Linked DNA regions of Homo sapiens: region 1 is linked to region 2. The links come from fine-mapping of genetic effects on gene expression. A gene starts in region 2. The other region holds a variant in brackets. All regions are shown on one strand. Distances are from middle to middle. Region 1 overlaps ARSG (arylsulfatase G). Region 2 holds the start of ARSG (arylsulfatase G).

Evidence for each region. PIP is the estimated chance that this variant, and not a neighbour inherited with it, causes the effect.
Region 1: its variant is fine-mapped to the expression of ARSG in whole blood (INTERVAL, PIP 0.92).

What each region holds. Positions count from the first base shown.
Region 1 is chr17:68,305,638-68,318,098 of GRCh38, forward strand. ARSG (arylsulfatase G) reads left to right here. Exons shown (of 12, transcript NM_001267727.2): 2 at 1,306-2,074. The coding sequence starts at 1,857. Among named protein-coding and RNA genes, the nearest start is that of ARSG, 20 kb to the left of the region's middle. The variant C/CT (reference allele first, on the strand shown) is at 6,163.
Region 2 is chr17:68,285,538-68,297,998 of GRCh38, forward strand. ARSG (arylsulfatase G) reads left to right here and starts at 5,958. Exons shown (of 12, transcript NM_001267727.2): 1 at 5,958-6,031. It overlaps SLC16A6 (solute carrier family 16 member 6), which reads right to left and starts at 5,590. Exons shown (of 6, transcript NM_004694.5): 1 at 5,549-5,590. RefSeq lists silencers at 5,726-6,415, 5,782-5,956 and an enhancer at 6,816-7,045.

The DNA of each region.
Region 1 (12,461 bases), 20 kb after region 2:
TTCTAACATTTTATTATGAAAATTACAAACATACAGCAAAATTAAAAGAGTTCTTTAGTAAGCACCCATATATCTGCTACCTAGATTCTATTATTAACTTTTTAAAACCATTTCCTTTTCCCCCAGATTAACTTCTGTCAAGAATTTTGGCTGGGCCTGGGTGTGGTGGCTCACACCTGTAATCCCAGCACTTAAGGAGGCCAAGGCGGGCAGATCACTTGAGAGGTCAGGAGTTCGAGACCAGCCTGGCCAACATGGTGAAACCCCGTTTCTACCAAAAATACAAAAATTAGCTGGGGTGTGTTGGTGGGCACCTGTAATCCCAGCTACTAGGAGGCTGAGGCATGAGAATTTCTTTTTTCTTTTTCTTCTTTTTTTTTTTGAGATGGAGTTTTGTTCTTGTTGCCCAGGCTGGAGTGCAGTGGTGCGATCTCAGCTCGCCGCAATCTCTGCCTCCTGGGTTCAAGCGATTCTCTTGCCTCAGCCTCCCAAGTAGCTGGGATTGCAGGCATACGCCACCATGCCCGGCTCATTTTGTATTTTTAGTAGAACTGGGGTTTCTCCATGTTGGTCAGGCTGGTCTCAAACTCCCAACCTCAGGTGATCCGCCCGCCTTGACCTCCCAAAGTGCTGGGATTACAGGTGTGAACCACCGCTCCCTGCGAGAATTTCTTGAACCCGGGAGGCGGAGGTTTCAGTGAGCCGAGATTGTGCCATTGCACTCCAGCCTGGGTGACAGAGTGAGACTCAGTCTCAAAAAAAAAAGAATTTTAGCTGGTCATAGTGGCACATGCCTGTAATCCCAGCTATGTGGGAGGTTGAGGCAAGAGGATGACTTGAGCCAGGAGTTCAAGACTGGCCTAGGCAACGTAGCAGGACCCTATCTCCAAAAATTTTTTTAAATGTAGAAACATTAGGTTATAGCTTGACTGTTACAAATAACCATGTCTTGGTAATAAGGGTCTCACCTCTCCTTCTGGAATTCTCAGTGGCACACTGGGATTTAGCAGCATTGGGGGCTGGTCCTGGTCCCACCCAGAACACTGGGCCTCAATATCCTCATCTCTACAGTGAGTGGGTTGGCAGAGATCATCTCTAATGTTACTTCCAACCCTGTCGCTATAGGTCCATTGCGAATATTATTATCATCACTATTTTTCAGGTGGAGAAACTGATGAACCAGTTAAATATTTGAATAAAAACATCTGTTGGCATGGAAAAGTGATTATTTCCTAAGCTACTGAGTAAAACACAGCTGCACTGGCAGTTTTAACTCTGTTTTCTTGTCAATTTTTGTTCTTTCAGGAAACCTTACAGAAACATGAAGCCCTCAACCATCTGCTACTCAGTTATTCGGGGCTGACGGCGGCTTCTAGAACATCCAGGTGTTCTGCAGATGCGAGAACTCATCCTGTAGTCACCAGATGGAGTCCCAAACAGCCAAGCAGATGTAAGGCCTGTGCTGTGGCTCTGAGGCCCTGAATACAGAAGGGTCACTTTCTTAGTGGCCAAAGAGCAGTTGTTGACATTGATGTCTAATTATTGAACACGACCAGTCATTTTACTGAGCTGCGGTGAGGAAACACTGACCATAGAAGATCAAGCCAAATGAGGGATTGCAAATTTCCTGATTCTTTTGAATTAGGATTCCAGATGGGGGCCTCATTTCTACAGCCCCCAACATTCCTATAGCCGTTATCACTGCCATCACCACTGCCACCAGCATCTTCTTGCAGATTCCACCCCTGCTCCCCAGAGACTTCCTGCTTTGAAAGTGAGCAGAAAGGAAGCTCTCAGAAAAATCTCTAGTGGTGGCTGCCGTCGCTCCAGACAATCGGAATCCTGCCTTCACCACCATGGGCTGGCTTTTTCTAAAGGTTTTGTTGGCGGGAGTGAGTTTCTCAGGATTTCTTTATCCTCTTGTGGATTTTTGCATCAGTGGGAAAACAAGAGGACAGAAGCCAAACTTTGTGATTATTTTGGCCGATGACATGGGGTGGGGTGACCTGGGAGCAAACTGGGCAGAAACAAAGGACACTGCCAACCTTGATAAGATGGCTTCGGAGGGAATGAGGTGAGTCTTGAGATGCCAGGCCAGCCTTTCTTTGGATGTCTTACTCCCGTTCTTGAGAGGGGAAGGGGCCGTGCAAAGCACTTAAAGAGTCATTGATGGACCCATGCTGATTTAGTTAATTTATTAATTAATTTGGTTTGAAGCCAGCATAGCATCGTGAAGAAATCCAGCCATCTAGCACCCATCCATCTATCTAGTAACATTCATTATGTGTTAGGAGCTAGGAATACAGAGGTGAACAAGATAAAACATTTTTGCCCTCAAGTTATTCATTGTCTGGTAGAGAAGACAGGTTAAAAGGAAAGTAAGGGGCTAGGTACAGTGGCTCATGGCTGTAATCCCAATGCTTTGGGAGACTCAGGTGGGAGGTTCACCTGAGCCCATGATTTTGGGACCAGCTTGGGCAACCTGGCAAGATCCCACTTCTACAAAAAATAAAAGCAAATTAGCTAGCGGTGGTGGCACGCTCCTGTGGTCTCAGCTACTCGGGAGGCTGAAGTGGGAGTGTGTCTGGAATTGGTGGGTTCTTGGTCTCACTGACTTCAAGAATGAAGCTGCAAACCCTCGCGGTGAGTGTTACAGCTCTTAAGGTGGCACGTCTGGAGTTTGTTCCTTCTGATGTTCAGATGTGTTCGGAGTTTCTTCCTTCTGGTGGGTTCATGGTCTCACTGGCTCAGGAGTGAAGCTGCAGACCTTCACGGTGAGTGTTACAGTTCTTAAGGCGGTGCGTCTGGAGTTGTTCGTTCCTCCCGGTGGGCTCGTGGTCTCGCTGGCTTCAGGAGTGAAGCTGCAGACCTTCATGGTGAGTGTTACAGCTCATAAAAGCAGTGTGGACCCAAAGAGTGAGCAGTAGCAAGATTTATTGCAGAGAGCGAAAGAACAAAGCTTCCACAGTGTGGAAAGGGACCTGAGCGGGTTGCCACTGCTGGCTCGGGCAGCCTGCTTTTATTCTCTTATCTGGCCCCACCCACATCCTGCTGATTGGTAGAGCTGAGTGGCCTGTTTTGACAGGGTGCTGATTGGTGTGTTTACAAACCTTGAGCTAGATACAGAGTGCCGATTGGTGTATTTACAATCCCTGAGCTAGACATAAAGGTTCTCCAAGGCCCCACCAGACTCAGGAGCCCAGCTGGCTTCACCCAGTGGATCCCGCACCGGCGCTGCAGGTGGAGCTGCCTGCCAGTCCCGCGCCCTGCGCCTGCACTCCTCAGCCTTTGGGTGGTCGATGGGACTGGGCGCTGTGGAGCAGGGGGTGGTGCTCGAGGAGGCTCGGGCCGCACAGGAGCCCACGGAGGGGGTGGGAGGCTCAGGCATGGCGGGCTGCAGGTCCCGAGCCCTGCCCCACAGGAAGGCAGCTAAGGCTCGGTGAGAAATCGAGTGCAGTGCTGGTGGGCTGGCCCTGCTGAGGGACCTAGTACACCCTCCGCAGCTGCTGGCCCGGGTTCTAAGCCCCTCATTGCCCGGGGCCCGCAGGGCCAGCTGGCTGCTCCGAGTGCGGGGCCCGCCAAGCCCACGCCCACCCGGAACTCCAGCTGGCCCACAAGCGCAGCACGCAGCCCCAGTTCCCGCTCGCGCCTCTCCCTCCACACCTCCCTGCAAGCCGAGGGAGCCGGCTCTCGCCTTGGCCAGCCTAGAAAGGGGATCCTACAGTGCAGCGGTGGGCTGAAGGGCTCAAGTGCCACCAAAGTGGGAGCCCAGGCAGAGGAGGCGCCGAGAGCGAGCGAGGGCTGTGAGGACTGCCAGCACGCTGTCACCTCTCAGGAGGATCACTGGAGCCCAGGAGTTCAAGGTTGCAGTGAGCTATGATTGTGCCACTGCACTCCAGTGTGGGTCACAGAGCGAGACTCTGTCTCTTAAAAAATAAGTAAATAGGCTGGGTGCAGTGGCTCACGCCTGTAGCACTTTGGGAGGCTGAGGCAGGTGGATCACCTGAGGTCAAGAGTTCGAGACTAGCCTGGCCAACCTGCCGAAACCCTCTCTCTACTAAAAATACAAAATGTAGCCGGGCGCAGTGGCAGGCACCTGTGACCCCAGCTACTCGGGAGGCTGAGGCAGGAGAATCACTTGAACCTGGGAGGCAGAGGTTGCAGTGAGCTGAGATCGCACCACTGCACTCCAGCCTGGGCAATAAGAGTGAGACTCTGTCTAAAAAAAAATAAATAAAATAAAAAAGTAAATAAATAAAGAAAGAAAGGGAAATAAGAATTATAAGCAAATAGCTTCTGAGCCCACATCCAGAGTTTTTTGTTTGTTTGTTTGTTTTGTTGTGTTTTTTTTTTGAGATGGAGTTCCGCTCTTGTTGCCCAGGTTGGCGTGCAGTGGCACGATCTCAGCTCACTGCAACCTCCATCTCCCGGGTTCAAGCGATTCTCCTGCCTCAGCCTCCCGAGTAGCTGGGATTACAGGTGTGTGCCACCTGGGGAGAAACCCCAGAGATCGGGTTTCTCCATGTTGGTTAGTCTGGTCTCAAACTCCCAACCTCAGGTGATCCGCCCGTCTCGGCCTCCCAAAATGCTGGGATTACAAGCGTGAGCCACCACACCCAGCCCCAACATCCAGAGTTTTTGGAGAACAGAAGCGAGGGTGTGGAACCCAACCTGGGGTTTCAAGGGAGGAGATGGCCTTTGAAGAGCAAAAGAGAGTCTGTGAGGCGTGGGAGATGTGACTCACTTATTTATGAAAGGCGTGGCTTACACTTAAGGCATACTGAACTCTAAGGGACCACAAAAGAGGAGCCTATGCATCTGATGAGTTGAAGTGTTTAGAAAACAGCTATTGCAGATTTTTGTTAAAACACCCAGCTCCTTTCCCTTCTTAGATGGAGAACAAGCGTTAGAGCTTTCAGACTTCAGGATTTTCTTCTTGGGCTAACATTGGTCTGATTGTCCAGCTCGGATTCTGTCTGCACTGGGCGAAACTCCTCCATGTGGTTCGGGGGGAATCATTTCAGCTCACCGCTTAGGATGACGCATAGGGCATCTCCACAGAGTTTTGGCCACTTGCATCCTAGAGCTTGATGCTTTTCCTGAGATACGCGCCCTTGGTGGGTGGTAGTTTCTGCATCTGGTCTCACCCACTCCAGTTCTTCCTCACCTCCATCAAGGTGAACTTTGTAGAAACACTCTTCTGCTTCCAGTCCTTCAAAGACATTTTTTAGCCCTAAGGATAAAACCCATACCCCATACCACAGCTAACAAACTGGAGTTTGGCTGGGTGTGGTGGCTCACGCCTGTAATTCCAGCACTTTAGGAGGCCAAGGTGGGCACATCACTTGACAGGAGTTCAAGACCAGCCTGGCCAACATGGCGAAATCCCATCTCTACTGAAAATGCAAAAATTAGCCAGATGTGGCGGTGCACGGGAGAACCTGGGAGACAGAGGTTGCAGTGATCTGAGATTGCACTGCTGCACTCCAGCCCGGGCAACAGACTGAGACTCTGTCTCAAAACAAACAAACAAAACCAACAAAACCCCAAACTGATTTCTTCTCCACTCTTCTCTCTTGCAGTGGTCTTTGGATGAGCCCTCCCTTCATCTGTGTGATGGGTTCATCCTGGTGCACTCTCCACTTCCTCTGTTTAATTAGTTTCTACTCACTACTTAGGTCTCAGTTGTACACGAGGGCCTCAGGAAAGCTTTCGTGGATGCCTCGGGTGTTCTGTGATGGTCCTTGCTGCTTTCTGTGGTGGCTGTTCAATCATCTGACCACTACATTGGGTTGAATAGCATCCTCCCTAAATTCATGTCCATCTAGAACCTCAGAATGTGACCATATTTGGAAACAGGGTCTTTGCAAATGTTATTAATTAAGGCTCTCGATGATCTCAGAATCGATTTAGGGTGGGTCCTAAATCCAGTGACATTTCCTTATAAGAAGAGGAGAAGACACAGGGACACACAGAGAGAGATGGTGACGTGAAGATGGAGGCAGAGATTGGAGCCATGCCTCTACAAGCCAGGAACACCAAGGACCGCTGGCAACCAGCAGAACAAGGAGAGAGGCATGGAACAGATTCTCCCTCAGAGCCTCCAGAAGGTACCAGCCCGGCCGACATCTTGATTTCAGACTTTTAGCCTCCTGTACTGTA[C/CT]TTTTTTTTTTTTTTTTTTTTGACGGAGTCTTGCTCTGTCGCCCAGGTTGGAGTGCAGTAGTGCGATCTTGGCTCACTGCAACCTCCACCTCCCAGGTTCAAGCGATTCTCCAGCCTCAGCCTCCCAAGTAGCTGGGATTACAAGCATCTGCTGCCATGCCTGGCTAATTTTTGTATTTTTGTAGAGATGGGGTTTCACCATGTTGGCTAGGCTACTCTCGAACCCCTGACCTCAAGTGATCCACTCGCCTTGGCCTCCCAAAGTGCTGCGATTACAGGTCTGAGCCACCACGCCTGGCCTGTACTGTTGTTTTAAGCCACACAGCTTGTGGTAATTTGTTATGGCAGCCACAGAAAACTTACACACCTCCCTCCTAGCTCTGGACTTCAGGAAGAAAAATGCCTCATCTGTTCTTTCCCGCTTATATTCCTAGCATGTAACACAGTGCTTGGTACGTAGTGGGCAATTAATAAATATTTGTTCATCAATAAATGGGCTCTAGGAGCTCAAGATGCCCTGGAATGTCACCCCAAATTTTGCATGTAGGAATACTTTTCTGGGGAGAGAGTTCATCCATTCATGAACATTTACCAGATTCTCCAAAGGGCGTGGGTTGCCAAATGCTTAGGAACTTCCGCTTTCAGTGTTTAGCAGGTTAGCGGGGAAATATTAGTCCCATTATTTAAGCTGAGATTTGCGAGGCCTACACGTTTTTTTTTTCTCATGTGCTGTCTCTACTGTCACACTCTCATCCTGAGCAGAAAGGAGGACTCAGGGGTCAGATGCCAAATGTGGTTCGTTGGGCTCTCCTTCTCCCCACCCCCTTATGAAAGTGTTTCTTTCCATCTGAGCCTTGTGACAGTGGCCAGGTGGCTAGCCCTCTGGCCTGAGGTCGACGGCTTTTCATTCTTCTTTGTTGACAGGAAAGCCGGGCTTCCTGTGAGGCCATGAACTGATTCATCGCTGGTTTCTCCCACTGCCTACTCACGGCCAGTGGGGAACCATGACTTTCAGACACGAACTCTTATTGCCCAACAGGGTCTGGGGTGACTAGCTGGGACTGCACGCTCAAGCCACCACGCCCGGTTCTGTTGCCTCCTTTTTATTTGTGCATGAATTTTCTAGGACTGCTGGAACAAATTACTCCAAACTGGACAGCTTAAAATGTTACTTTGTTCTGGCCAGGCACAGTGGCTCACACCTGTAATCCCAGCACTTTGGGAGGCCGAGGCGGGCAGATCACGAGGTCAGGAGATCAAGACCATCCTGGCTAACGTGGTGAAACGCTGTCACTACTAAAAATACAAAAAATTAGCCGGGCATGGTGGCAGGTGCCTGTAGTCCCAGCTACTCAGGAGGCTGAGGCAGGAGAATGGCGTGAACCCGGGAGGCAGAGATTGCAGTGAGCCGAGATTGCGCCACTGCACTCCAGCCTGGGTGACAGAGTGAGACTCCATCTCAAAAAAAACAAAAATAAAAACAAAAAAACATTACTTTGTCCTTTCACAGTTCGGAGAGCCAGAAGTCCAAAATCAAGGTTATGACTGAAGGCTCTGACAGAGAATCCATTCCTTGCCTCTCTCCTGGATTCTGGTGCCTGCTGGAATCCTTGGCATTCTGGGCTTCTAGACTCCTATCTCCGCCTCAGTTGTTATGAGGCGTTCTTTCATGCCAGTGTCCAGACTCCCCTCCTCTAATAAAAATACCAGTCTTTGGATTGAAGGCCCACCCTACTCCAGTATGACCTCATCTTAACTTAATGACATCTGCGAAGACGCTATCTCCAAATAAGGTCACGTCACAGGTTCTGGATTGATATGAAATTGAGGGGAACGCTGTTCAGTCTGGTGCAATTAGCTGTATTACGTATCTCTCTCTCTCTCTTTTTTTTTTTTTTGAGACACAGTTTCACTCTGTTGCCCAGGCTGGAGTGCAGTGGTGCAATCTTGGCTCACTGCAACCTCCGCCTCCGGGTTCAAGCGATTCTCCTGCCTCGGCCTTCTGAGTAGCTGGAATTACAGGCACCTGCCACTACGCACGGCTGATTTTTGTATTTTTAGTAGAGACGGAGTTTTGCCATGTTGGCCAGGCTGGTCTTGAACTCCTGACCTCAAGTGATTCACCTGCCTTGGCCTCCCAAAGTGCTGGGATTACAAGCGTGAGCCACCATGCCTGGCCTACATATCTCTTTTTACTCCGCTTCTAACGCAGTCTATAATGTAGTAGGTGGTCAGTCAGTATCTGTCGCATTAAAGACTAAATGTCATGCTTAAGAGGGCAGGAGCCAGACAGTTTGAGCTCAAATCCCAGCTCTGCCACTTCCTATCTGTGGCCCCGGGCAAACTGCATCATCCCCTGGAGTTTTGCTTTCCTCTTCTGTAAGTGGGGACAATGATAGCACCTCTACCTCACAGGATGTTGTGAGGGTTAAATTAAGTAATCTGGGCCGGGCACAGTGGCTCACACCTGTAATCCCAGCACTTTGGGAGGCCGAGGCAGATGGATCACCTGAGGTCAGGAGTTTGAGACCAGCCTGACCAACAAGAAGAAACCCCATCTCTACTAAAAATACAAAAGTAGCCAGGCGTGGCGGCACATGCTTGTAATCCCAGCTACTCGGGAGGCTGAGGCGGGAGAATCATTTGAACCCGGGAGGCGGAAGTTGCAGTGAGCTGAGATTGCGCCATTGTACTCCAGCCTGGGCAACAGAGCAAGACTCCATCTCAAAAAAAAAAAAAAAAAAAATTAAGTAATCTGTAAACCAGGTGTGGTGTTGCACATCTGTGGTCCCAGCTACTCCAGAGGCTGAAGCACACGGATCCCTTAATGCCAGGAGTTCAAGGCTGCAGTGAGCTATGATCATGCCATTGTACTCCAGCCTGGACAACAGAGTGTCTCATAAAAAAAATAAAAAATAAAAAATTAAGTAATCTGTGTAATCAGTTAGCATAGAGCCTAGCATACAATAGATAGGGTTCTATGTTAGCTATGGTTATTTTTGTTATTGTTACTAGAAATGTCCAAATGGAATGTCAGTGTGAATTGGCTAATCTGCATGATAAAAGGTCCAGTGACAAAACTTGGAAGGATGAGGTGGAGTTCCAGTGACAAATTCCTGTTAATCCCTATGCTGGCTGTGCATTGGGGCCAACACCTTTATTTGAATCAACACAACAGCTGCAACAATCACTAACCCTTACCAAGCTCTTGCAAGGTGCCAGGCTCTAGGCATTACCCTGGCTAATTCTTGGTACCACCCTACTTTTCTCTTATATCTCAGATGAGGAAATTGAGGTTAAGTAACACGCCCAGAGTTGGTGAGTGGCCAAGCCAATATTCAAACTCAGATTTCCTCATTCTAGAGCCTTATTCTTTCAGGGCTGGGCAGAACTGGGGAATCAGCAAAGAGAATCCATCAAGATTTGGCCAGCTTTCCCATATGGCTGTCAAAGAGCAGGAGGCCAGGCGTGGTGGTTCACATCTGTAATTCCAGTACTTTGGGAGATCGAGGCGGAAGGATTGCTTGAGCTCAGGAGTTTGAGAGCAGCCTGGGCAACATAGCAAGACTTCATCTCTACAAAAAAATCAATAAATTAGCTGGGCGTGGTCCTACCTACTCCGGAGGCGGAGTCAGGAGGATTGCTTGAGCCCAGGAGGTTGAGGCCACAGTGAGCTATGATCGTGTCACTGCACTCCAGCCTGGGTGATGGAGTGAAATCCTGTCTCAAAAAAAAAAGGAGATTGGAATCTCATCATTTTTTTTCTCCCTTTGGTGCTAATGAAGGATTTTTGTGCTGTCCAAGCATAAGAGGCAACCTGAGAAATGGGATTGTATTTAGTTATTTATTTTAAGATGAAGTCTTGCTCTATCGCCTAGGCTGGAGTGCAGTGGCGCGATCTTGGCTCACTATAACCTCTGCCTCCCAGGTTCAAGTGATTCTCCTGCCTTAACCTCTCGAGTAGCTGGGACTACAAGTGTGTGCCACCATACCTGGCTAATTTTTGTATTTTTAGTAGAGACAGCATTTCACCATGTTGGCCAGGCTGATCTTGAACTCGACCTCAGGTGATCCACCTGCCTCGGCCTCCCAAAGTGCTGGGATTACAAAGTGCGTGGGTGGCACCCAGGCAGAAATGGGATTTAGATGTCAGTCATCAAAATGGTTGATGCAACCATCGTTCAGGAGGCTCACCCAGCCAGGGATGTGTGATGGCTGCAGTTTCAGGTGCCTGCAATCTTATCCTGCCTACTCCAGCTTCATCTCCAACCCTCTCCTCATGTTCCTCACATTGCACATGTTTCTGTTCCTTGAACATATGCTTTTCCCTGCCTCAGGGCCTTTGCACTGGCTGTTGCCTCTTATTGGCGAGGTCTCTCCTCAGGCTTCAAGCAGCTGATCGCTTCTCATCCTTCTGGCCTCCACTCAAATACCATGTCCTCAGAGAGGCCTTTCCTGACCGTGCTCTCCAACATTGCCTTCCTACCCCATGCACATCTCCTACCCATTCTCCTGTTCTGTTTCCATGACCTGTATCACTGTTGAAATGATCTTCTTTGTTTACTTCTTTGTTGCCTGTCTCTCCCACTGGAATATTGCCTCCTTACAGCAGCCTCCTTATCTGTCTTATTTATGTCTTCAGTGGCTAAAACAATGCCTGGCACATGGTAGGTGCTCAAACAATAATTGTTCACGTACTTGGATTCCTGGATCTAAACTTCTAGGTGTGCACACATGGGTTGACCCGAGCATGAGAGCTGGAACTAGACTGCCTTGGTCTGTTACTTGCTAGCTCTGGGACACTGTGCTAGTTATTAAACCTTGCTGGACCTTAGTATGCTTATCTCTGCAATGGGAAAATAATGGCACCTACATCACAGGGCTATGGTGAGGAGGAAATAAGTTAGGTCATATAAGGCAGCAAAAGGGTCCCTGGCATGTATTGGTGCTTGATGGGTGCTAGCTCTTATGATTCCCTATGACACCGGCCCTGCTCCCCTGTTCGTCACAATTCCCTCCTCTGGCTGGAGGGTGAGGCCTGTTTTCTCAGCGTCTGTTCCAAAAGCACCTTGCTCTATCTATTCCCAGACTCTCACCCTTCCCCAGGTTGAGCTGTAGGACTCATCTGGCTTCTTAGAATCTGCTTGTTTCTTCTCATTCCTAGACCAAATCCCCAAGTCAACACCTAAAGGTCTCAGTAACATTTCCCTTTTAGTTTGTGGCCAGCGCACACGATTCGTTTTTTGTTTGTTTTTAACCTGGTTGCAGGAGATGTGATTTGCCCATTTTTGCACAGAAAGGGCACCATCCGTACCACAATTATGATGTCGTTATTTGTTAAAGGAAGAAAGGAATCTGGGGGAAGAAAAGCAGAATCTTTCGGTGACTTCATATTTTGGTATCCCTTTTCAGACTTCTAAACTCTATTTACATGGAGATAAAATAGGGATTATGGCCTAAAATCCCACAGCCTTAAGCCCATTTACAGTAGCCCAGGTCAAAGAGCATTCATGTCACCATATCCCTTTGGGAGAAACTGAGGCCGAGAGAGACGAAGTGTTTTTACTGTTATAATCAGCTCTCTGCCATGTGGGGGTCGATTATGTGGTTTGTGGGTTTGCTAGCTCAAAGATTGACTACATGAAAAATAATGATGAACTGTTTTGTTTTTTTTTTTTTGTATGTGAAAAACCCAAAGCTACTGCAAATCAGCAAACATCTCTTTATCAGAGGGCGTTGTCGTTTAGGGCCCCCAGTGTTGAGAGATTGCTCATGTATGCACCGCAAGGCCCCAAGTCCCCTCGCACATGTCAGTAGGTTAAGCAGCCAACCTATTTTGCCGTTGACCTTGTGGGATGTCATTTTGCCAATGTCCTTTGTAGATCTGAGCTGGGCTGTGCTGTTGAACACTTATCAGTTTAAAAATGATAAGATAGCCAGAAGATAATTGAAATGAAATTTAAATGAAAATGTCAGGGACTTAGTAATCAACTAAAACTTAAAAATGTTAAGCAATTGGCCAGGCGCAGCAGCTCATGCCTGTAATCCCAGCACTTTGGGAGGCCAAGGCCGGTGGATCACCTGAGGTCAGGAGTTCAAGACCAGCCTGGCCAATGTGGTGAAACCCCGTCTCTACTAAAAATACAAAAATTAGCCGGGCGTGGTGGCGGGTGCCTGTAATCCCAGCTACTCGGGAGGCTGAGGCAGGAGAATCTCTTGAACCCGGGAGGTGGAGGTTGCAGTGAGCTGAGATTGTGCCTTTGCACTCCAGACTGGGCGACAAGAGCGAGACTCTGTCT
Region 2 (12,461 bases):
TGCGCACCTGTGCTTCCAGCTACTCGGGAGGCTGCGGTGGGAGAACTGCTTGAACCCAGGAGGCAGAGGTTGCAGTGAGCTGAGATTGTGCCGCTGCGCTCCAGCCTGCGTGACAAGAACGAGACTCCGTCTCAAAAAACAAAAACAAAAAAACTCCTGGGCTCAAGTGACCCTACTCAGCCTCTCAAGTGGCTAGGACTATAGGTATGTGCTACCATGCCCAGCCAATTTTTTTTTTTTTTAATTTATGTTTTGAGATGGAGTCCAGGCTGGAATGCAGTGGCATGATTTCGGCTCACTGCCACCTCCATCCCCCAGGTTCAAGCAATTCTTTGCGTCAGCCTCCCAAGTAGCTGGGATTACAGACGCCCGCCACCATGCCCAGCTAATTTGTTGTATTTTTAGTAGAGACAGGGTTTCACCATGTTGGCCAGGCCGGTCTGGAACTCCTGACCTCGTGATCCACCCACCTCGGCCTCCCAAAGTGCTGGGATTACAGATGTGAGCCACCGCGCCTGGCATAATTTTTATTTTTTGTAGAGACAGGGTCTCACCATGTGGACCGGGCTGTGGGTTGCATTTAGATGAGTGGGACCAGATTGCAGTTTTTGTATGAGCTGAGATTACCTGCCATCATGAGAAGGCTCTGTCTGGCCAGCACTGAAGTTCTGGTGCCAGCTGCCCCTTTCCTCTCTTCCCTTGCCTGTATCATCAGATGTTTACACTTGCAAAAGGGATGGGGCTAGGATGAATCTGTAACCCCTGAATAGAGTTAGAATTATTGAATGTTAAAGCTGAAGGGGAAAATTGAGGTTATCTTTTTCAATTCCTTTTTGTAAAATCTTACTCATTTTGTAAAATCGGGAAACTGATCCCCAAGAGGTGAAGGGACTTGACTGAAATAGCCCAATACTGAATCTCCTGCCTTCCAGGGCTCCTGCTGTACAAGCCTACAGGAGAGCATTTTATTGTATTTAATTTTTTTGAGATGGAGTCTTGCTATGTCACCTAGGCTGAAGTGCAGTGGCACGATCTTGGCTCACTGCAACCTTAGCCTCCCGGGTTCAAGCGATTCTTCTGCCTCAGCCTCCCGAGTAGCTGGGATTACAGGCACCCACCATCATGCCCGGTTGATTTTTGTATTTTTAGTAGAGATGAGGTTTCAGTATGTTAGCTAGGCTGGTCTCGAACTCCTGACCTCAAGTGATCTGCCCGCCTTGGCCTCCCAAAGTGTGGGATTACAGGTGTGAGAAACAGCTGATACTTTTGAATTTAGTACTGAATTCTATTAATCAACTGATGGCTTAAGCGAAGCCTGGTGGCCCAAGGAAACTGAGCTCGGAGAAAGTGTAAATGCTAGATGGTTCTTGCAAACATGGGTGTAAAGTAGCTAGCTGGTCATTGCTTAGATCTATTCTATGACAGCTGTTTAGAAGATGGTGGACTTTTTGTTTTTGTTTTTGGAGATGGAGTTTCGCTCTTGTTGCCTAGGCTGGAGTGCCATGGCACAATCTCAGCTCACTGCAACCTCCACCTCCCGGGTTCAAGTGATTCTCCTGCCTTAGCCTCCCAAGAAGCTGGGATTACAGGCATGCGCCACCATGCCCGGCTAATTTTGTTTTAGTAGAGATGGAGTTTCACCATGTTGGTCAGGCTGGTCTTGAACTCCTAACCTCAGGTGATCTGCCTGCTTTGGCCTCCCAAAGTGATAGTATTAAACGTTAGATAGTATCTAAACGATAGTGCTGGGATTACACGCGTGAGCCAGCATGCCCAGCCTTCTTCTTCTTCTTTTTTTTTTTAATAGAGACAGGGTCTCCCTATGTTGCCTAGGCTGGTCTGGAACTCCCGGACTCAAGCGATCCTCCCACCTCGGCCTCCCAAAGTGATAGTATTAAACGTGTGAGCCACCTCACCTAGCCAGATGGTGGACTATTCATTTCTATTTCCTTTCTGAGCCACTGCTGGGAAGTTAATTCCTTAGTTTTTTTAAAAAACTCTGCTTTATGTCTGAGCTATTCTACTCTAGCTAGAGCCACATATAACTTTCACCTGCATTCTTGGGTTTTTGGACAGAAGCTTTCTTTTCTTTTTATAACTGAGATCTCCATCAAGGAAAGATGACACCCTGAACCCCGTCCTACCCCCAAGGTTTATGCCTTTATCATCCTAAAGCATCCTATGTCCTATTAAATTTAGCTTTGAAGATAAGACCACAATATAAAGTAATAACAGGATAACCTGGTTTCTGAACCTTCCTGGGTGATAATGCCTGTATTTAAGTAAAGTCATGCACAGGTCTTTCCTTAAAAAACCGAGTCATAAGGGGAGAAAGTGCTTGGTTGCAGAATAAAACCCTTCCTGGACTCTTCTCCCTTTTTTCTTTTCTCTTCTCTTCTTCTCTTCTCTCTCTCTTTCTCTCTCTCTCTCTCTCCCCCTCCCTCCCTCCTTTCTTTTTTTTTTTTTTTTGGGGGTTGGGGATGGAGTCTCAGTCTGTCTCCCAGGCTGGAGCACAGTGGTGCGATCTCAGCCCACTGCAAGCTCTGCCTCCCGGGTTCAAGCGACTCTCCTGCCTCAGCCTCCTGAGTAGTTGGGATTAAAGGCGCATGCCACCACGCCCGGCTGATTTTTTTTTTGTATTTTTAGTAGAGACAGGGTTTCACCATGTTGGTCAGACTGGTCTCAAACTCCTGACCTTGTGATCCGCCCGCCTCAGCCTCCCAAAGTGCTGGGATTACAGGCGTGAGCCACTGTGCCCGGCCTTCTCCTTTTCTTTTTTTCCATTCCTTCAGCAGAAGGCCAAACCTTCTGTCTCTGCAAACAAAGCAACTGAGGCCTGAATTTTGAACTCATTTATGCAGAAGCCTCTGTAAGTTCCAGAATATAAAAGTTTATCTGTCCACTTTGGTCTGTGGCCATGTGAATTTATCTGACGGGTAGGGATATTTTTCAGCTGTGTAGGGATCTAACTGGTGAGGCGAGCTGAGTCATCCTGCCCATCAACCCCTGCTTTACGGATGATGGAATTTAGGCAAATCACTTCACTTCCCCATTTTCAATGTCAATGTAAAATCAAGGTAAATGTAAAAAAGGGAGTTGAACTAGACTCTGATGAGCTTAGATCTCTTCCTGCCCTAATAGTCTATACTTCTATGACAGCCTTTGACCGTCACTTGCTTTAATCCTTCTAAGCCCTTTGAAGGCAAGGCCGAAGAGTTGGTCTTCTTAAAGCTCTTAGGCCATATTTGTTAATTTCTGTGTACCATTAACTGGCTGCACAGTTATGGAAACCACAGAATCCTGAACTTCTAGAACTTCTATCATCTGTAAAGCATGGGTTGTCAGGGGAGTCTCTCAAGCCTTTTCCAACTTACAAAACTCGACAATTCTGAATGGGGGTTCCCGGCAGCCATCTTCCCTTCACCCTAGTGTTCTTCTGGAGGAAGTACAATGACACAATCCACGGGCAGTTTGGAGGATTTCCTAGTAGCATGTGGTTAAGTGTCCCCTTAAATAAATGAGTATTGGCCGGGTGCGGTAGCTCATGCCTATAATCCCAGCAATTAGGGAGGCCGAAGCAGGCAGATTACTTGAGCCCAGGAGTTTGAGACCAACCCGGGCAACATAGTGAGGCTGTGTCTCTACAAAAAAATTAAAAAATGAGGTGGGAGGATCGCTTGAGCCCGGGAGGTCGAGGCTGCAATGAGCAGAGATGACGCTACTGCACTCCCATGATGGGAGTGAGACCCTGCCTCTAAACAAATAAATAAGTAGGTATCTTGCCAAAGGCTTGGAAATCCGCTATCCTTGGGAGTTTCACTGTGATTTAATTTGTCGAGAGAAGATTTGGCCCGAGGGCATGAAAAAAATTGTATTATTGTAGACCATCAGAGTGTTATTCCAGGGTCAGCTAAGAGCAAGTTTCAAAACGCAGGCTCTGGATGGAAATGGGGTGGCTACTGTTGTAGGCAGACCTCGAGCAAAAGCACTGCGGATTTCTCTTCTTCTTAAAGGCGTAGCCCGGAGAACAGCTTTGACAAGTTGTTTCTGGCCCAAGTTGTCAAAACCAGTCTGTATTTGGCTAAAGTTCATCTGCATTCTCTATTTAAAAAAAATTTCCAAACCTAACCTGGATAGCTGCCTCACGATGTTGAATCACTGGCTACAACCGAGTCACCATTTTACAAGACTATGGTGTTGAAACCTGAGCCCCTAATTTAAGTGTCCTCCTCAGGAGTTCCACTGAGGAAAGTCCTTTTTCGGAAACCACAGAAGGAAAACTCAGGGTTAGTGGTACTCATTACACTGGAAGGAGCTTTTCCACTTGGCTGCATTGTTTATTTACACACTGTAAGTTCCTATTTTGGACACTCTTCCCTTAATTATGAGAAGAGGGGTTTCTATTATATCATCTGGCCGGATGTATTGTTGACCCCAAAAATGCCACATAACGGTGCTTGGGACATGGGGAGATGCATGGTTTAGAGATTTCAGCATAAGCACTTGGCATCTTTTTTACAAGCAAGACACCTATCTTACCATGATTTGCAAAAACAATCAGATCACTGAGAAATCTCATTCCCGGGGTAGAAACCATCTCCTGCGAGAAGGAGCTGGCACGGAGTGTCTAACCGTGCAAACAAAACCGGCTTCCAGGTTGACAAGTTGTAATTGCTCTTCCCCAGTTGGCTCCGGGGAGCTTTTTCTAAGACTGACGCCCCCCATGTTTGGTGACATTTTATATACGCCACCTAACAAACTTCTATGACCTGTCTTGCTAGGGTGGGGGGAATAAAAAGAAAAGACGACAACAACCTAGAAGGAAATAACCCATTTCCTCTGCAAAACCATCTTCCCTTGCTACGGAACTGCTTGGCGACACCAGCGCTTTCCTGCGGTTGGCAGCCCGGGAACCTTGAAGTTGCGCGGGACCGGCCGTCAGCCGCTGACAGTTCTGACAGTCCAGGTGGAGGACCCGCGCTCTGCCGGGAAATCCCCGGCTTCCCGCTGGGGACAAACGGTGGCCGCCGCAGGGAGTGCTGTGTTTGGGGGTCGGGGGAGGCAGGGAGCCCCACTTTCCCTCGCGCTGCCTCAGTGCCCGGCCTGCGTGCGCGCGCCAGCCTGGGGTAGGAAGGTACCTCTGACATTTCGCTCCTGCGACGCGCAGGCAACTTCATGCGGAAAATCCGCGGAGGGGCTGAGCCTGGAGCCCCCGACTCTTCCGACGTCCCGGAGCCCCCAACCCGGGGCAGGGGGCACTCAAAGGCCAGGCGTGCCTTTAGGTATCTTCCGGGACCCAACTGTACCAGGGTCACGGACATTCAACTCTCAGCTACCCACACCGGCGCGAGCGCGTCATCCCGGTGGCCCTGGGCATTCCTAACTGTCAGAGCGAATATTTTTGGGAATAACCTCTCCAAAATGTGAAGATGTTCAGTGGTCTCCTCCGCCTCCCATCACAAAAAAAGGCCCCAACACATATTTTTTAAAAAACAACCCACATCCCACAATCAAACTTTTAAACATGTAAAATAATAAACCAACTCACCAAGTTAGAAGGGAAGAGAATAAACCCCCAAAGGCTCCCAATAAGGCGGAGGCTTGGCCTCCCCCTCCTTATAAGCCGCTCGGTAACATGAGAAAAGGATTAACCCCTTAGGGGGCGGGCCCGACTCTAGCGCAAGTTGGCTCGGGCTGGTGAGGCCCGAGCGCCCGGGCCCTCCACCCACTCCCGCGACTCGGGCACCCGAGCCACACCCTCCCCCCGCCCCCCACCCCGGCCGCCTGCGACCCGGGCCGTGCGTGCTGCCGCCCGCGCCCCGGCCCCGCGTCGCTGCCTAGCTCTTATCCTATACCGGCTGCAGCCGGTCTCCGCCGGCCTCGGGGGCGCGCCGCCGCCGACCATGTGCTGCGAGCGCTGAGCGCAGCCAAGGAGGGGGCCTGCCTGGCGCGCGCGCGCCGTCCCACGTGGACCTGAGCCGCGCCGGTCGCGCGCCCGCCAGCCTGCCGCCTGGGCTGGGGGTCACGAAAGGTAACCGCGTCGCGGTCCGGGGCCGGGCCGCCCCCGCCAGCGCCGCCGGGGTCCTTGGCACAACGCCCCGATCTCCCAACCCGGGTGCGCCTCTGCGCGCGTGACCCGCCCAGACCCCGGAGCTTTGCTGCAACGCTAGTAGGAGCGCGAGCGTGCAGGGTGTTGGGGGTGCCTGCATCCTGTCTCGGAGCACCTCGGCCAGGCGCGAGCGCGCGGGTCCCCGTCCCCACCCCCGGGCGCCTTCCCGGCGCGCCCACCGCCCAGTCCCGCCCGCGCCCTGAGGATTTAGGGATTTAGCGGCGAGGGGGAACACGCGCGCGCCGGGGCTGATCCCGCGCGGCGCTCGCGGCTGCGGCGGCTTCGCGCCCGCCCCGGGCAGAACAGGTTCCTTCCAGTTTGGGTGTGAGCTGCGCGCGCGGCGCCTGAGTTCCTCCTGCAGCGCCCACTTCCCCCAGTTTCGTCAACTCGCGCACCCCCACAGTTCCCCTTCCGGCAGTGGGGAGGGAGTGTCGCAGTGGGCCCCAGGGAGCGAGCGGCCGGGCCGCTGCGGGTGCCTTGCTTCCCCCACTTTGCTGCACCGGCAGCAGCGGCAGCAACAGCATCCGCGTTGCGCGAAAGGAATGTGAGCAGCCGGGCTGAGTCAGCATCCCCGGCCCGGGGCGCGCGCGCACCCTCCAGGCAGTGGCGGCGTCGGCACAGGTGCATGGCTCCCATACCCGCGGGGAGCCCTCTGTAAGGGACCTGGAGGTTTAGACAGTCCGTGCCCCTCATCCCGTAGTCCCCGACCCCAAGGTCACCGTGAACTAAGCGGATGATGCACGCGAAATCTCAGGAGCTCCTCATGGGGACAAAGCATGTGTCAGATCCTAGACATTTCAGAGCCTGCGGGGGCGCAAACTTAGCTTCTTGGTCTCTACCTCACATCCCGAGGGCAAATTTGGAAACTGCTCGGAAGCAAAGGCCATGTTATTTGCATTCGTATGCAGACTTTGGCGCCGGCTGCTGCCTTCATTGGGGTTCGGAGAATGTGGTTCTGATGTCAGAAACTCAAGAGAGCCTAGTTTGGGAGTGCATGCACGGAGGGTCGCCACCGGGAGGAGTCGGCGATCTGAATTTTAATAAAAATCCTTCCTTGCTCGCTGAGTTCTCTCACCATTTTGGGATAGGCTCTCCTGAGTTAAATGCCATCCTTTGCCGTTGACAAGTTCTGGTTGTGTAAGTGGGGAGAAGATTCGTTGGTACAGGGTGCCTTGTATGGCCAGTAGTGTACAGCCAAGGGGCCGCTGAGCAGCTTTGCAACCTTGTAGGCGTAATTTAACCTCGTAGAGCGTTAATTTCTCCAGATCTGTAAAATGGGGATGGAGGTGGTATTCCCAGAATTGGAGGGTTTAATTTATGGTACTTGTAAAGTGCGGATCGCAGTGACTGGCATTTGGTAAGGCCTCAGTACCCATTAGCTCTTGCTGCTGTTACGATTTATGCTTTACCAAGGCCAATTAATTGCTGACTCCAACACACTCCCTGTGAGAGAGAGCCCTTTTTTGAGTTGTTCTTCAAAGGATCCATATATAATGATATTTAGAAACTGATTTGAACACTTCATGCTAATGCAGGGCTGCCTGTAAGATAATCTTTGATATTTAGGATCTTACACTTTAATACTTAGGACCTGTTACTGTACTCTATATGGAAATATCATGTGCAATATGACAGCATATTCTGTATGTCTTAGGAACCTAAAGGTGCAGCCAGCCATTTATACCTGAGTGACTCGAAGCAAGTCACATAAAATCTCTGTACTTCAGTCTCTTGATTTAAAAAATGACTCAAATTATACCTAAATCCTCAGGAGTGAATGAATGATTGGAAAAATCACATCTGAATGTTTGAGCAAGTGAAACCTGGCTTTTGGGGAGCATGATTCTAATAATAATAATAATAATAATAATAGATTTTTGTTACTAATGTGTTACTATTCTTATATTTTATTAATATTAATCTTTTTTAAATGTTTGCTTTGTCCTCAACACTGCATTAAGTGCCATACATGTAATGCAATGTTAACCGCATCAGTAACCTTCTGTAGTTGACACTCATTATTCCCATTTTACAGATGAGGAAAGTGGAGGCACTGAGCACTGGAGGGATTGACCTAAGGTTACACCATGTTTATAGATACACACTAGCACTTTTTACCACTAGAGCTCATCCAAAGATGACATTTGCCATCTGTGTTTGAATAATGGAGAGGTAGCTGGAAACCCAACCTACGCACAGCCTTGCTAGTCACAAAAAAGTCACGCAACATGACTTTTGCCCACCCTAGTTAGAGGCTGGCTTCACCTTGTTCCCTCAATCCTAGTGAGACCAAGCGTGAAAACCCCTGCTTTTTTAACTTCTCCAGAGAAAGCACTGCATTGCCATGCTAATCAACGCCCCCTTGCCCCCAAACAAAACTAACTCTGTTTAGTTCTAAATAAGAACAAAAGAACCTTTGGAGTCTGGAGTACAGGACCAGAAAAATCAGGAAATCAAGTGAAGGGCTCAGCTCCCCTCTTAGCCTCTCCTGTTGTGTCTGCCTGATCCCAAGTGGCAGGCAGAGCCCCCTCTCGGCTTTCCTTTACAGTGGGCAAGACCATCATGATGCCCTTAAGAAGACCCCCAACATCTTCTTGGGGAAAAAGTTGGCTCTTCAGAGCTGTCCCCAAGGCTCCCTCTTTTAGCCCTCTTGCATAGGGTCATTTGCATGAGAACAGATTCCTTTGTGTAAAGTTGGCCTGCCTGTTCTCTGTCCACGTTTATAGTCCTTCAAGTCTTCGTGTTGGGTTGCTAGGCAGATATGACCCTGGCTTGCAAATAAGCTCACTGCATTTACCAGCCTGTGAGAACTTCAACTTGGGTAAGTAGACTGAAAGGAATCTGGTCTGGACCTCTGGGAAGAGGGTCCCGCAAGCCTGCTTTTGGGGGCTGACTCTTCAGGGCAGCCATCAAAGGGGGAGAATATGTGAAGGGGGCTTCCATGGGAGGCTTCGATGGCCCACCCACCCTTCCATTCTTCCTCTTCCAGTCTCTGTTCCACCCACCATGCTCCCACCCAGGGGCTTGTGTTCTGGGCAAGTGACTTGTATGCCACTGAAGCAATTTCTTGCTTTAAAACTTTAATATCTGCTTCTCCAATTGGCCAGGAACTTCACACACTCTGCCATCTAGCAACAGTGAACCGATGGTACAGGTAGTTCTGCTAGGTTTATTTTGTGATTTGGGTTCCTCCCCCGCAGCACCCCGCCAAATTTCACAGTTTGTAGGAAGGCAGGGCCCTTCAAACTGGGAAACACACACTTCTGGGAGAATTTAAAGATTTGCCAAGGGGTTCTGAGGCACAGATAGTGATGACGATGATAATAATAATACTACAGAGTTGTGTGCATGGCTTAGTACAGTTGCTAAGTTAACTGAATTAACACGTGCAAGGGGCTTAGCACTGGGATTGGCTCATGGTCAGGTTCCCTAACTCTTGGCTGCGACTCTTTCAACCTGTGAGTCCTGGGGGATTGAGGAGGATGGCGATCAGGGAAGCCTTCAACTGGCAGAGAGGACCTTGGGAGAACTGGCAAGGGGTGCTGAGCCAAGGGAGAGGTGAACAGCATGAGAAGAAGGTAGGAGGTAGGTGAGGCCATTCTGTATTTGGGGACAGTGAGGTCACCTTCCCACTCGTGTGTGTGGGCGGCCGATGATTGATTTCTGTCATACCTGTTACCATTTGGTGCAGTATCGATGTATCGTTGGTGTCTGTCATTAACTCTGAAGTAACTTTTACTTGATCAGTACTGAATTTCATTCCTAGGCTTCTCAGTCTTCATAGTTGACTGCTCCTGTAGTTTTGCCATTTATTACTGCTTAAAAATTAAAAAAAAAAATAGAGAACATAGCCTCCGGGAGGCTTCTATAAATTATCTCAAGCCTGTTGCAAAAGTCCTAGAAAACAAACCCAGGCTGAGTGTGATAATCCTAGTGCTTTTGGCATGAAGGCAGGAGGATTGCTTGAAGACCAAACGTTTGAGACCAGCCTGGGCAACACGGCAAGACACCACATCTAAGACAAATTTTTTTTTTTTTTTTTTTTTTTTTTGAGATGGAGTCTTCCTCTGTTGCCCAGGCTGGAGTGCAGTGGCGCGATCTTGGCTCACTGCAACCTCTGCCTCCCGGGTTCAAGCAATTCTCCTGCCTCAGCCTCCCAAGTAGCTGGGACTACAGGTGTGTGCCACCATGCCTGGCTAATTTTTGTACTTTTAGTAGAGACAGGGTTTTACCATGTTGGCCAGGCTGGTCTCGAACTCCTGGCCTCAGGTGATCCACCCACCTCAGCCTCCCACAGTGCTGGGATTATAGGCATGAGCCACTGCTCCGGCCTAAAAAATATATATTTTTAAAAAATTAGCTGGGTGTGGTGGTGCTGTCACACCACTGCACTTCAGCCTGGGCAACAGAGTAAGACCCTGTCTCAAACCAACCAACCAACTCCAAATCTCAGAACAAAATTATTTAAATCACATTACATTTAGGAGTGAATGCACGTCACATTAAACTGTGTGACACAGTTGTGGGTCGTGGGATCTCATTGGCAATATTGGGAAGGGCTGTGTGTGGGACCAGTGGATTTTGCCCCGATCGAGTCACGCTTTCTTCAGATAGTTGTTGAAGTTGTTCCACCTGCCCTGTTCCTCAAGGCCCAATGAATAAAAACCTGCTCTCCTGCTGTGTTTCTTGCCTAAAGGGAGATGCTGACTTTCCCTATCTTGTCTAAACAGGTACCTCCTGTCCTGTGTTTCTAGATTCCCAGGAACAATAGGCAATGTTAAGCTTCCATTTTAACCCTTTAGGAGCAGTGCCTCCGTGAGTTTCCAGATGGCTAGGGGACGATGCGAAGAAACTACAAGGATGCTGCAGGATTGTGTTGTGGGCAAATGGTGAGGAGGGGCCCCGCCCTGCTGTGATCGGTGGGGGCCTGTGGAGTTAGGTGAGCTTTGTAGGGATACACAGCAGGACTGGGTCCAGGGAGCATCCATCCCTCCATCCTTCCCTCCCATGCCCATCGTTCATCCGTCCATCCACCCAAGCGGCCTCTGCTCATCCATAGCCCACTCGTGAGCACTGACAACTGCTGTTGTCTCCCAGGCCACAAAACCACACCTCAGAGGATGTGGTTCCTTCTCTCATAGTGTGTATAGTTTAGTTCAGAAGACAGGACACATGCGATTGTTACGTAAAACAGCATTTCAACAAGTACAATTTTACAAGTGAGAATTACAAGTGAATGTCTTCTAAGAAAGAACTTAGAAAAGTCATCTAAGTTGAGGGGAATGATGAGATGAAGCTGGCAGGGCGAGGCAGAGCAGGCTGGGCTGTTGATGTTCATGTTACATGCACTCATCCAGCAAATATTGACTGAATACCTTCTGGGCCGGGTGCCGGAATTATGCAGTGCATAAACTATACAGAATGTCCCTGCCTTTACAGAGTTTCCGCCCTGGAGTTGTAGATCTTTCTTGCTTGAGCACCTAGCTAGCCAAGCATCCTGGACAAAGAGTTCTTTTGAAATGTTTCTGATATGGAAATGTAACTTCCATTTTCAATTAACATCAACAAAGGGGAGATTCCCCTCACACGCATCCTACATCTTGACCTCATATTGTTAAATTGTCCGAAACCAGATTTGCTGGAAGGCAGCATACTCCAAGGATGCCAGCTATTATTAGAGTCTGCTTGGCTGAAGGGACCTGGCTCAGGTTTAGCCAAGATGGCACAGATAGTCATGGGATTGTGTAACAAGGAACCATAGTTTGGAACGTTGAAAATGTAAACTGAAATCAGTCTTTATTTCCTCTTTGCCTTGTTTGTGACTATGGTGGCGTGTTTGTAGCTTCTGTCTTCTCTAGGTTCAGAAACCAGCATCAGAGCTTGCTTAACAAACAATTCTGGCAGATTCAGCCAGTAGCTGCAGGGAGTCTGGATTTTGCCATCTATACTCAGAATAGTTATGTTTTTATCTTTTTTTAAAATTAAAAAAATTTTTTTTCTAATAGAGATGGGGTCTTGCTATGTTGCCCAGGTTGGTCTGGAACTCCTGGGGTCAGGTGATCCTCCTGTCTCGGCATCCCAGAGTGTTGGGATTACAGGCGTGAGCCGCTGTGCCCAGCCATTATGTTTTATTTTAATGTTAGTAACGCTTTGGCTTGCATAGCACATTTTTAGTGTGTTCTCATATTTATTATCCCTTTATCCTCAAAACAATCAAGAGATGGACTAACAGTAGCCAATATTTCTTAGCACTTACTGAGAACTTGGGTTGGATTATTTCATTCTCACATTGTGTTTGGGGTTGAGAAAGTTTACTGTGACTCTTTTTTTTTTTTTTTTTTCCCCTGATATC